2 linked regions of the Homo sapiens genome follow. The protein of the gene in region 2 purifies or fractionates together with the protein of the main gene of each other region. This does not show direct contact. Each region holds a gene or a part of one and is shown on either strand. Other genes may lie near its edges.

Region 1 (4,957 bases), on a different chromosome or scaffold from region 2:
AAAAAAGCATGGTCACTCCCAGAAAGTTTAGATTAGGAAAAAAAATGCAAAGGGAGAACTTTGGTGGCTGCAAAAAAAAAAAAAAAAAAACAAACAGAAATAAACTTGAAAAAACATCCTACTCAACCGTGCATGAAAGCTGGTAGAAGCCTAACACTGGACATAGCATATTTCTGGATATATCTCTCAGACACCCAAATGCAGTATTGAGGAAAGGATCTCTAAGGCAAAATGAATGACAAATTTATGATACAAGAAGTCCTCAGGGTGGCAGAGGGGACAGCTGAAAAATATGTAAAAATTGAATTTTATGTTAAATATTAAAATAACATGTAGAACAGTTGTTTGATTTAAAAACTGAGTCAACAAACCTTTAAATAACTTTCTGAAGTATTAAAATAAACTAAGTAAAATGCTATTGGGCAAATTTAAAATGCTCGGCAACTGGAAAAAGTGAGGAGTAAAAGATATATTTCATAACTCAATCCAGGTGTCAAAATGTACTTCCTGGGTAGTGATGAGACATAGGCATGTCCAGGGCTATTTAAAGAAGGTAAAAGTCCATTTCTAAAAAGAACTCCATCAATAATCCAAAGCGTCTGCCCCCAAACTAGACATAGAAATGAGAATGTCCTAGGGGCTAAAAGAAAAAGAGCTTCAGAAAAACTTAATAACCTTGTTTTCCTTACAGGAGTAATAGGCAACTGAAATAATTATACAGGAAGTCCAAACCAAATTCATCTTTAGGAAAATGTCATTGCTTTTATCTGAATTATTTTAAATGGTTAATTAAAATTACCAAAGAATGGCTCATTTTTAGCAGATAGCTTTTCATTTTAAATACTGGGCAAAGTCTTTATTTTTCCCTCCACTGCCGGCCCTTAGGCCACTTCACTGATACTTGTTTTCTCTCTCAAAAGCAGTCCCCTAAGGCAAGTGAAAACACTCAGCTAATATTCATGAAAGCATAACTATTATAGGTGGAAATGAAGGTGGGGACAGGAGGACTGTGTGGGTCGGGAAAAGAGAAGCGATATGAATCAGATTGTTTATCACTGTCTCTCAACACACCTAAATCACATTTATCACACAAAATTGTTTTGACATATTCAAAATTATTTATTTTTTAAATAATTACATTAAAGTCTTGGCCTCTCTCTCTCTCTCTCTCTCTTACTCTCCCAGTGTCACTCTCTATCCTCTGGATCTCTGATCTCTACCCCCTCTTGCCATAATTATCTGTTTCCTCTTTTCAAGGAACTTTTATTCACATACAAGTATTTATAGGATCCTTTTATCCTCTTTTTTTTTATACAAACGGGATATTATTCAGTCTTTTATATTTTGTTTTTCCCTCTTTTTTTTTTTTTTCCTGTAAAGCTAGGACGTCTTTTTAGTGGCTGCAGGTTATTCCATGGGCTCAATAAACAATGTTACTACTGTAAACCCTCCTACTAAGGGACATAGAAGTCACTTTCAGTTTAGGCTATTATAAATAATGCTGCAAAGACTATCATTACAAACATATCTTTTCATATCTGTGGAATTTCTTGATCTAAGTGTATGTACATTTCAGATTTTCAAAAATATTGCCAAATCACCCTTCAGAAAAGTTTAACAATTCATAATTTCAACAACACGCTATTTTTCCTACTCTTTAACACTGAGGTTTTTCCAACATTTTCATTTCAGCTAATCTGATAGCTGGAAAACTGCAACTTGTTTTGATTTATGTTTAATGATAGAGTGAACATCTTTTCATGCTTATATTGTTTGCTATTTTTCTATTGGGTTATTCTTTTTAGCCATTTGAAGAGCTCTATGGATATTAAGGAAATTAGGCCTCTGTCATAATATTGCAAAGATTTTTCCCCAATCTGCTACTTATCTCTTGACTTTGTTTTATGTATATTTTAAATGGAAGAAATTCAGAAGTAGGCTGGATTCTGCAACTGTATGAAATTAATTTAAAATATCTATTACGAGAAAAAATAGCGAAGATGTTGCAACTGTCCATAGGATGACAGTATGAAGTCTGAGTAATACTTTAAACATCAAATTAACTATTTAGCTTTGTATGCAGATAACTAAAGAATCTTCTGGATATCATTCTTTACAAGACTACAAATTACCATGCTTCTTCAATTTGTAAATCTCTGAAAAGGTTTTTCATGAGGAGCAACACCACTGATCAATAAGCTAGAGTTTCATTTACAAGAAAATCTTCTGCAACTGAACTCTCTAAGTTGGTTAAGGTGATGGGTTCAGGTGGATAGTCACAGACCACAGAATCAGAGAGTAATGTCAAGAAAGAGTGCAAATGGGGCTGAGGAAAAAAATTGGAAGATGAACAGAAGAGTACACGTGTTTATTTTAGCAGCACATGTAGGAACCTGGAATGGTTCAGAAAAAAAAACTCACAAGGCAACTACACAAGCACTGCATGGCAATTCATAAACCATTTCCCCCTACACATTTTATGATGCTTAGACATTTAGTTGTTTTACTTAAATAATATCACAAGTTACCGAAAAAAGTGAAAGGGAAGAAAATGTAGACAAAAATCTTAAAAGTCGGACCTCATGAGGAATTGAGTTTGACTCCATAATTGTGTCTCAAGAGAAACTGAGTTATGAGGAATTAAAACTCTCTTGGATAAACCGTTCACATATTTGAAAAGCATTTAGCTACAGGCTAACACAGGGAAAGAGACAGAATCTTCTAGTCCCTACAGTTAGTCTAAGTAGCAAATTAAAAAATAAACGCTATTTTTGTGCTTGAACTCTTCCCAAAAGAGCACTGAGTTGAAGGGACAAAGAAAGGAGGCTACTTTCAATAAAATTCAACATTCCTTCAGGTTAAAAACTCTCAATAAAGTAGAGGCATTGATGGAACATACCTCAAAATAATTAAGAGTCATTTATGGCAAACTCACAGCCAATATCATACTGAACAGGCAAAAGATGGAAGCATTCCCCTTGAAAACTAGCACAAGACAAGGATGCCCTCTTTCACCACTCCTATTCAACATAGTATTGGAAGTTCTGGCCAGTTCTTTCTCAGGCAAGAGAAAGAAATAAAGGGCATTCAAATAGGAAGAGAGAAAGTAAAACTGTCTCTTTTTGCAGATGACATGGTCCTATATCTAGAAAACCCCATTGTCTCAGCACAAAAGCTTCTTAAGCTGATAAGCAACTTCAACTAAGTCTCAGGATACAGAATCAATGTGCAAAAATCACAACCATTCCTATACACCAACAATAGACAAGCAGAGAGCTAAATCATGAATAAACTCCCATTCATAATTGATACAAACAGAATAAAGTACCTAAGAAATACAGCTAATAAAGGAAGTGAAGGACCTCTTCAAGGAGAACTAAAAACCACTAATCAGGGAAATCAGAGAGGATACAAACAAATGGAAAAACATTCCATGCTCATGGATAGGAAGAATCAATACCATGAAAATGGCTATAATGCCCAAAGTAATTTAAAAATTCAATGCTATTGTCATTAAACTACCACTGACATTCTTCACAGAATTAGAAAAAATAACTTTAAATTTCATATGGAACCTAAAGAGCCCATATAGCCAAGACAATCCTAAGCAAAAAGAACAAAGCTGGAGGCATCATGCTACCTGACTTCAAACTATACTACAAGGCTACAGTAACCAAAACAACATGGTACTGGTACAAAAACAGACACACAGACCAATGGAACAGAATAGAGAAATCAGAGATAAGACCACACATCTACAACCATCTGATCTTCGACAAACCTGACAAAAACAAACAATGGGGAAAGGATTCCCCATATAATAAATGGTGCTGGGAAAACTAGCTAGCAATATGCAGAAAATTAAAACTGGACCCCTTCTTTACATCTTATACAAAAATTACCTCAAGATGAATTAAAGACTTAAGTGCAAAACCCAAAACTATGAAAACTCTACAAGAAAATCTAGGCAATACCATTCAGGACATGGGCATAGGCAAGATTGCATGATGAAAACGTCAAAAGCAATCGCAACAAAAGCAAAAATTGACAATTTGGATCTAATTAAACAAAAGAGCTTCTGCACAGCAAAAGGAACTATCAGAGTGAACAGCCTACAGAATGGGAGAAATTTTTTGCAATCTATGCATCTGACAAAGGTCTACTATCCAGAATCTACAAGGAATTTAAACAAATTTAGAAGAAAAAAATAACCCCATTAAAAAGTGGGCAAAAGGACATGAACAGACACTTCTCAAAAGAAGACAGTCACGCAGCCAAAAAACATGAAAAAAAGCTCATCATCAATGATCATTAGAGAAATGCAATCTAAACCACAATGAGAAACCATCTCACCCCACTCAGAAGGGCAATTATTAAAAAGTCAAGAAACAACAGATGCTGGCAAAGGTGTGGAAAAATAGGAACACTGTTCCTATTTCCCACTTTGTTTACATTCCCACTGTTGGTGGGAATGTAAATTAGTTCAACCATTGTGGAAGACAGTGTGGCAATTCCTCAAAGACCGAGAACCAGAAATACCATTTTACCCAGCAGTCCCATTACTGAGTATATACCCAAAGGAATATAAATCATTCTGTTATAAAGATACATGCATGTGTATGTTCATTGCAGCACTATTCACAATAGCAAAGACGTGGAATCAACCCAAATCCCCATCAATGATAGACTGGATAAAGAGAATGTGGTATATATACATCAAGGAATACTATGCAGCCATAAAAAGGAATGGGATCATGACCTTTGCAGGGACAATAGATGGAGCTGGAAGCCATTAACACAGGAACTAACACAGGAACAGAAAACCGAACATCACATATTTTCATGTATTGGGGGAGCTGAACACACATGGACACAGGAAGGGGAACAACAGACATTGGCACCTTTCTGGGGAGGGGTGGGGGAAGGCAGAATATCAAGATAAATAGCTAATGCATGC
Region 2 (5,550 bases):
CTAAATAGTGACAGGTGACTGGTTTATGGCAGGCCAGGACTGGGGTCAGGGCTGGAGATAAGGCTGAGAATGTTAAGACCAGGAACAGGAAGAGAGGGCCACTCACCCTGTGTAACCTTGAAGTTAGAGATGGCAGATGGAGCAGGAACCAGTCCACCACCCCATCGCCAATGTGCAGGCTCTGTGGTGCCCATAATTAAGATGCACCCATAAGAGAGTGTATAGCTTTACCCCTCCCGCATTCCTCAGAGGGGATGCCCTACCAGGGACTCGTTCTCCTCACCCATCTTTATGGTCCCAAAATGCACCCAGGGCCCCCCTCTCTCCTGGGGGGCCTGAATGCAATGAACTTTAAAGTGGATCATTGATCAACAGTCCCTTAACCCCACCAAAGTTTCCCAAGCCTCTCCCCTGCTCATCAGGGGGCTGGCCAGAGGTCACAGGGACTCCCTGGGGGTGGTTTTTATTCCCAGGAACAGGCTTCCTCAGTCCTGAAAGGGACATTTTTATAGCCCTGTGAACACAAATGCACTCCCCAGAATAGGCTCTGGGTGTGGAATCCCTCCTGTGGCTGTCATGGTCGCAGGCTGGTGATTACATTATACAGTGGTGTTGACAATAGAGCCCTAAGCCTGGCATGGACACCCCCTCACCTCCCTCCTGCCTCTCTGTAGGATCAAAGCTGCTCTGTGAGGCTGTGTGATCCTGGGCCAGGAGCGGGGAGTCAGCCTCAACCCTAAGCAAGGAGGAAGCATCTTTGCCTGAATCCTTCTGGGGGAGGCAATCCCCCTTCAGAAGTCCCTAGCCCAGGTTCGAAGGTCGGTAGGGACTGAGAGGTTGGCAGCGGATGGGGAGTGGCTAAACCAGAAAAAGGGGGCTTCCTGTTGATGGATTGATGGAGGAGGTCCAGGTCCACTGCCTGGTTCCCCGTCCCTCTCCCGCACCCCAGCCTGAGCTTCCCAAACTCCCACAGAAGCCCCCACCCCATGTGGGACACAGAGGACCTGCAGTAGCAGGAGGGCACAGCTAAGAGAGGAGACAAGAGGCAGCTTGGGGGCATGGGGGGGACCCCATTTCCCCAAATGTTGGAGCCGCCCTTAAGGGAACTTCCCCTGGACTCCTCTGGAGGTCTTGCCAGATGGGAGAACCAGGGGTCCATTCAGACCCCAGTCTCTTCTCTTCCCATCTCATCTCTCCACCTGGGGGGCTCAAAGAACCTAGCTCCTCCCCTTTGACCCCATCAGCTTCTCCCTCACCGAATCCTCTTACAATCCATTTCTTAATTCTGCCCCATCAACCCTCCCTGGTCATCACATAAACACCAGCAAGGGCAGTAGTTTAGGGACAGCTTTGCTCTGTATTCGAAGAAAGGTCTTTGGTCTGCTTAGAAATTAAGTTTGGAGCAGCCTGGGAGGAAATAGAAGAGATGAGACCCAGAGAATCAATGGCCACTGCCAAAGAGAGATAGGAGAGCCTTTCTGCGGCCACTGATTCAACAAACGGCATCACACGCCCCTCAGCCTCTCATCTCTTCGAGGCCATCTCCACCCCCACCCCCACCCCCACCCCAAGGCCATTCCAAGGTCCCATTCAAGACCACTGCGCAGGGGTGGCGCCAGAATGATCAAAGTCATCATGGGGCACTCATCTTTGTGTGGGTCAAGCACTTTGTGGTGTCGTGTCCCTGTTCCCAAACCAGGGACCAGGAGTAGGATGGGGGAGGGGCAGGGCGCCGCTGCTGAGTGGAGAGGACGCGGAGTGGGTGAGGGGGCCTTGCGCACAGGGCAAGAGGTGGCCAGGCAGGGCGGGGGACCGGGGAGAGCGGAGGATTTCAGATGAGGGACAGGGGAAGGTGGAGAGGGGAGGGCAGGCCCCGCCAGGGGGAGGAGCCGCCTCCCGCGTCCAGCTGTCGGGGCTCCCTCCCGTCGCGGCTCCGCTATAAAACCCAGGCCGGCAGGATCGCTGCACCCGCGGCGGCCTCCTCGGTGCGCGACCCCCGGCTCAGAGGACTCTTTGCTGTCCCGCAAGATGCGGATGCTGCTGGCGCTCCTGGCCCTCTCCGCGGCGCGGCCATCGGCCAGTGCAGGTGAGCTCCCGGGCTCCGGCCCCAGGTGCCCCTCGGCGGTCCCCTCCGTGCCCCCAGCTCCCGCCCCTGCAGAGGATCCCCCCGCGGGCGACCGGTGAGCGTCGGTGGCGCTGGGGTCCCGGGTTGCGTGTGCGCCGGGGGCCGCGAGGGTGCGGGAGGACTGGGCAGCGCGCGAGCTTGTGTGTGCACACGCGTGTCAGCACCGGCTGGGGGAGCGTGTGCACGGGTGTGCGCGGTGAGGGTGTGTGCGCGTGGCCCGGCGAGACGAGTTGGGAGTCCCTGATAAGGATGCGTCTCAGGCCGGGCGCGGGTGCTCCAGCCTGAAATGCCAGCACGTTGGGAGGCAGAGGCGGGTGGATCACCTGAGCCCAGGAGTTCGAGACCAGCATGGCCAACATGGTGAAATCCCATCTCTACCAAAAATACAAACATTAGCCGGACGTGGTGGCACACGCCTGTAATCCCAGCTACTCGGGAGGCTGAGGCCCGAGAATCGCTTGAACCCAGGAGGTGGAGGTTGCAGTGAGATCACGCCACTGCACTCCAGCCTGGTGCTCCGTTTAAAAAAAAAAAAAAAAAAAAAAAAAAAAAAAAAAAAGGATGCTTCTCGGACCCGCCTCAACGCACGCCTTCTTTTCTCACCCAGCCTCCTCCGTCTGCCCGTGGGTTTCCGTCCGTCCCGCTGGGACTCAGCGCTGGGTGACTGCCCCGCGGCCAGAGCAAGGGCGGTCTGGCAGGGTCCTGGAAGCCGCGCTTCCCACACGGGTTCCTTGCCCCTGAGGGTCGCAAGCTCCCCTGGCCTCCCTAACCTCCAGCGCTGAATTGGGAGCCTGGCGGGGGCGGGGGGTGGGGGACCCGGAGCCCCAAGGCCTCTGCGGAGCCGGTCTTTCCGGACAGGGTGATTTTCGTTTAAAGATTAATGGTGAAGCCGAGCTCTTAATTATTCCTCTAGGTGGGAGGTGGCAGGAAAGGCATGTTAATATTTGATAAGAAGCTAAAGGCGCTTCAAGCGGCTGGGCACAGGGATCCGATCCTGGAGGCACCTTCTTTGCAACCCCAGACCCCATCACCGGAAGACCCCCTCTGCCAGTTCTCAGCCCAACCACCCCTCGGATGGTTCTTGGGGTCCACGCAGGCTGAAACCTCCTCTCCCAAGTTAGGTGCTCCATCCTCAAAGCGGCGGAGTGAGGGGTGAAGGTGTCCTCTGCACAGAGAGGAGCCAGCGTGTGCCCTTTGCAGCAGGGACTGGCTGAGCTGTCTTAGAGGGTCGAGGGGCACCTTGCAGCCTCTCCACCGGGCCCCTGGGAGAAGAAAGAGAAAAAGCAGAATGTGGAAACTTTTATTTGTAGGGTTGGACATTGGAAACCTACTAAGCAGCTAGAAAGTAGAAAGAGAAATGCTTTGCAGTTCTGGTGCTTTGTAGCTGTGTGGTCTTGGGTAAGTCACTTCCTGTCCCATTTGCAAAACAGGTGTTGTCATTCTGACTTCAGGGGTTTTAAGCGTTTGAATAAGATAATGGGTTTAAGTGATTAGTGCGGTGCCTGTGTGGCACGTGGCTGGTGTGTCATATACCAAGTTTATGGGGCTCTCCCCCAAGCCTGGGGCCAGTGTCAGGAATGTGTCTCAGCTCACCCCTCACACAAGCTGCTATCCCCTTTAGTGCCAAGGCTTTCTGACTGGGACCTGCCTTCCATTCATCTTATGGAGGACTCAAGCTGAGAAGGGACCAGGTTGCATATGGCGACCCCCAGAGCATCTCTGTCCATTGAGACAAGAGGCCGGGTGAGGATATTTGGTCCCCTTCAGAGCCCCAGACCCCTGGCCGGGAGCGACTGAGACTTTGCCCAGGAAACACTTGGGTTGTGCTGAGCTGTTTTTCAGGATTATCCCCTGTCCCTCAGAGGGGGAGGTGGGGTGAGCAAGGTCCATTAGAGAGGCTTCTTCAGCCATCTTGAAATAAGGGGGAGGGGTGGCAGGTCAGTCAGTGTGGGGGGCAGTAGCTGGGTGACAGGCGACTGACTTTCGGTCTCTAACCTCTGGTCAGGGTGGATGGACTAGGTAGGATGTGGCGCTGGACACCGAGACCTCTGGGTAGGTAGCCCCTCTCCTTCCCAAGCCCTCTTGGGAGTGGCCTGAGTCAGTGGGCTGGTACTTACCTGCAAGGGTGGCCCTCTCATTCAACGAAGACAGGAACCTGAGTGGTGGGTGCTCCTGCCACCAGCACCCCACCCTCATCCACCGACATGGACCTGACCCCTGGCCTTGACCTCACCACCATTATGTTTTCCTGGCTGCTGCTTCCTGAAGAAGGTAGTTACAAGTGCGTTCAGCCAAGCAGGTCAAAAGTCTCCATGATTAAGACAGTGGATCACAGGTCACCACTACAAACCTAGGAGCTGCGGCCAGAGCCAGGGAAGACCAAATTCCTAAGAAAAGCTAAGCCTGGACCAGATGGGCCCCAGGGAGGCTGTGAGGCGAGTTACAGGGGGCTCCACCCTTTGCAGCTGGCTCTTGGGGATGCTGGCTGAAGGGAGGCTTCTCCTGGAATGGCTGCCCCCGGGCCCTCCAGTCAGAGAAGAGGCCAGCCCAATCTTCAAAACCCCTTCCTCCTTCAAGACCTCTGCGGGTGGGGACATGGGATGATTATGGCAAGGAACTGTCATGGTGCAAATGCCCTCTGATTTATTATCTCCTTAGTCACCAGCACTGGGAATTTGGTGGCTGCACCTGTCAGAGGCGTTTGAACCAGAGTGACTCCATTTTGGGTGAGAGCTAGGAAAATGAGGCCGAGATTTGCTGGGCTGCATTATCAGAAAGTCAGGCATTTCTAGCCTCTAGATGTTTGCAGTTAAGGGAACAAATTAATAATATTTACTACACAGACCCAGACTTGGGAAGGTCCAGATACTCCGATATCTGGAGAGCAAAGGCATTCCTAATTTTGCTTTAAAAATAATAATGTTGGCTGGGCACGGTGGCTCACACCTGTAATCCCAGCACTTTGGGAGGCCGAGGCGGGTGGATCATTTGAGGTCAGGAGTTCGAGACCAGCCTGGTCAACATGGTGAAACCCTGTCTCTACTAAAAATACAAAGATTAGCTGGGCATGGTGGTACATGCCTGTAATCCCAGTTACTCAGGAGGCTGAGGCAGGAGAATTGCTTGAAACTGGGAAGTGGAGGTTGCAGTGAGCCAAGAGCCCACCACTGCCCTCCAGCCTGGGCAACAGAGCGAGACTCTATCTCAATAATAATAATAATATCAATTCTTGGATAATGTAGTAATTAAGAAAATTAATCCTTTATCACAAACCCTTGTAGCAGAGCACATGTCCCCATATATACAACGCATTGAATGCATTCCTTCCTTCTCTGACTTTTGGGAATGTCCTACTCTGTCTATGGAGTAGCTGTCCTTTCACCACTGTACTTTCTTAATAAACGTGCTTTTCCTTTGCACTGCAG

Evidence for each region.
Region 1: the proteins of CA4 (region 2) and ALDH1A2 purify together in Homo sapiens (affinity purification with mass spectrometry; one large-scale study listed by BioGRID and IntAct). This does not show direct contact.

Annotation. Positions count from the first base shown.
Region 1 is NC_000015.10:57,995,147-58,000,103, forward strand, and holds part of ALDH1A2 (retinal dehydrogenase 2), read right to left. Parts: intron 1-4,957. UniProt on the Homo sapiens protein: Catalyzes the NAD-dependent oxidation of aldehyde substrates, such as all-trans-retinal and all-trans-13,14-dihydroretinal, to their corresponding carboxylic acids, all-trans-retinoate and all-trans-13,14-dihydroretinoate, respectively.
Region 2 is NC_000017.11:60,148,007-60,153,556, forward strand, and holds the start of CA4 (carbonic anhydrase 4 preproprotein), read left to right. Parts: upstream 1-1,966; 5' UTR 1,967-2,028; coding exon 2,029-2,086; intron 2,087-2,758; exon of another isoform or gene 2,759-3,523; intron 3,524-5,550. UniProt on the Homo sapiens protein: Catalyzes the reversible hydration of carbon dioxide into bicarbonate and protons and thus is essential to maintaining intracellular and extracellular pH. May stimulate the sodium/bicarbonate transporter activity of SLC4A4 that acts in pH homeostasis.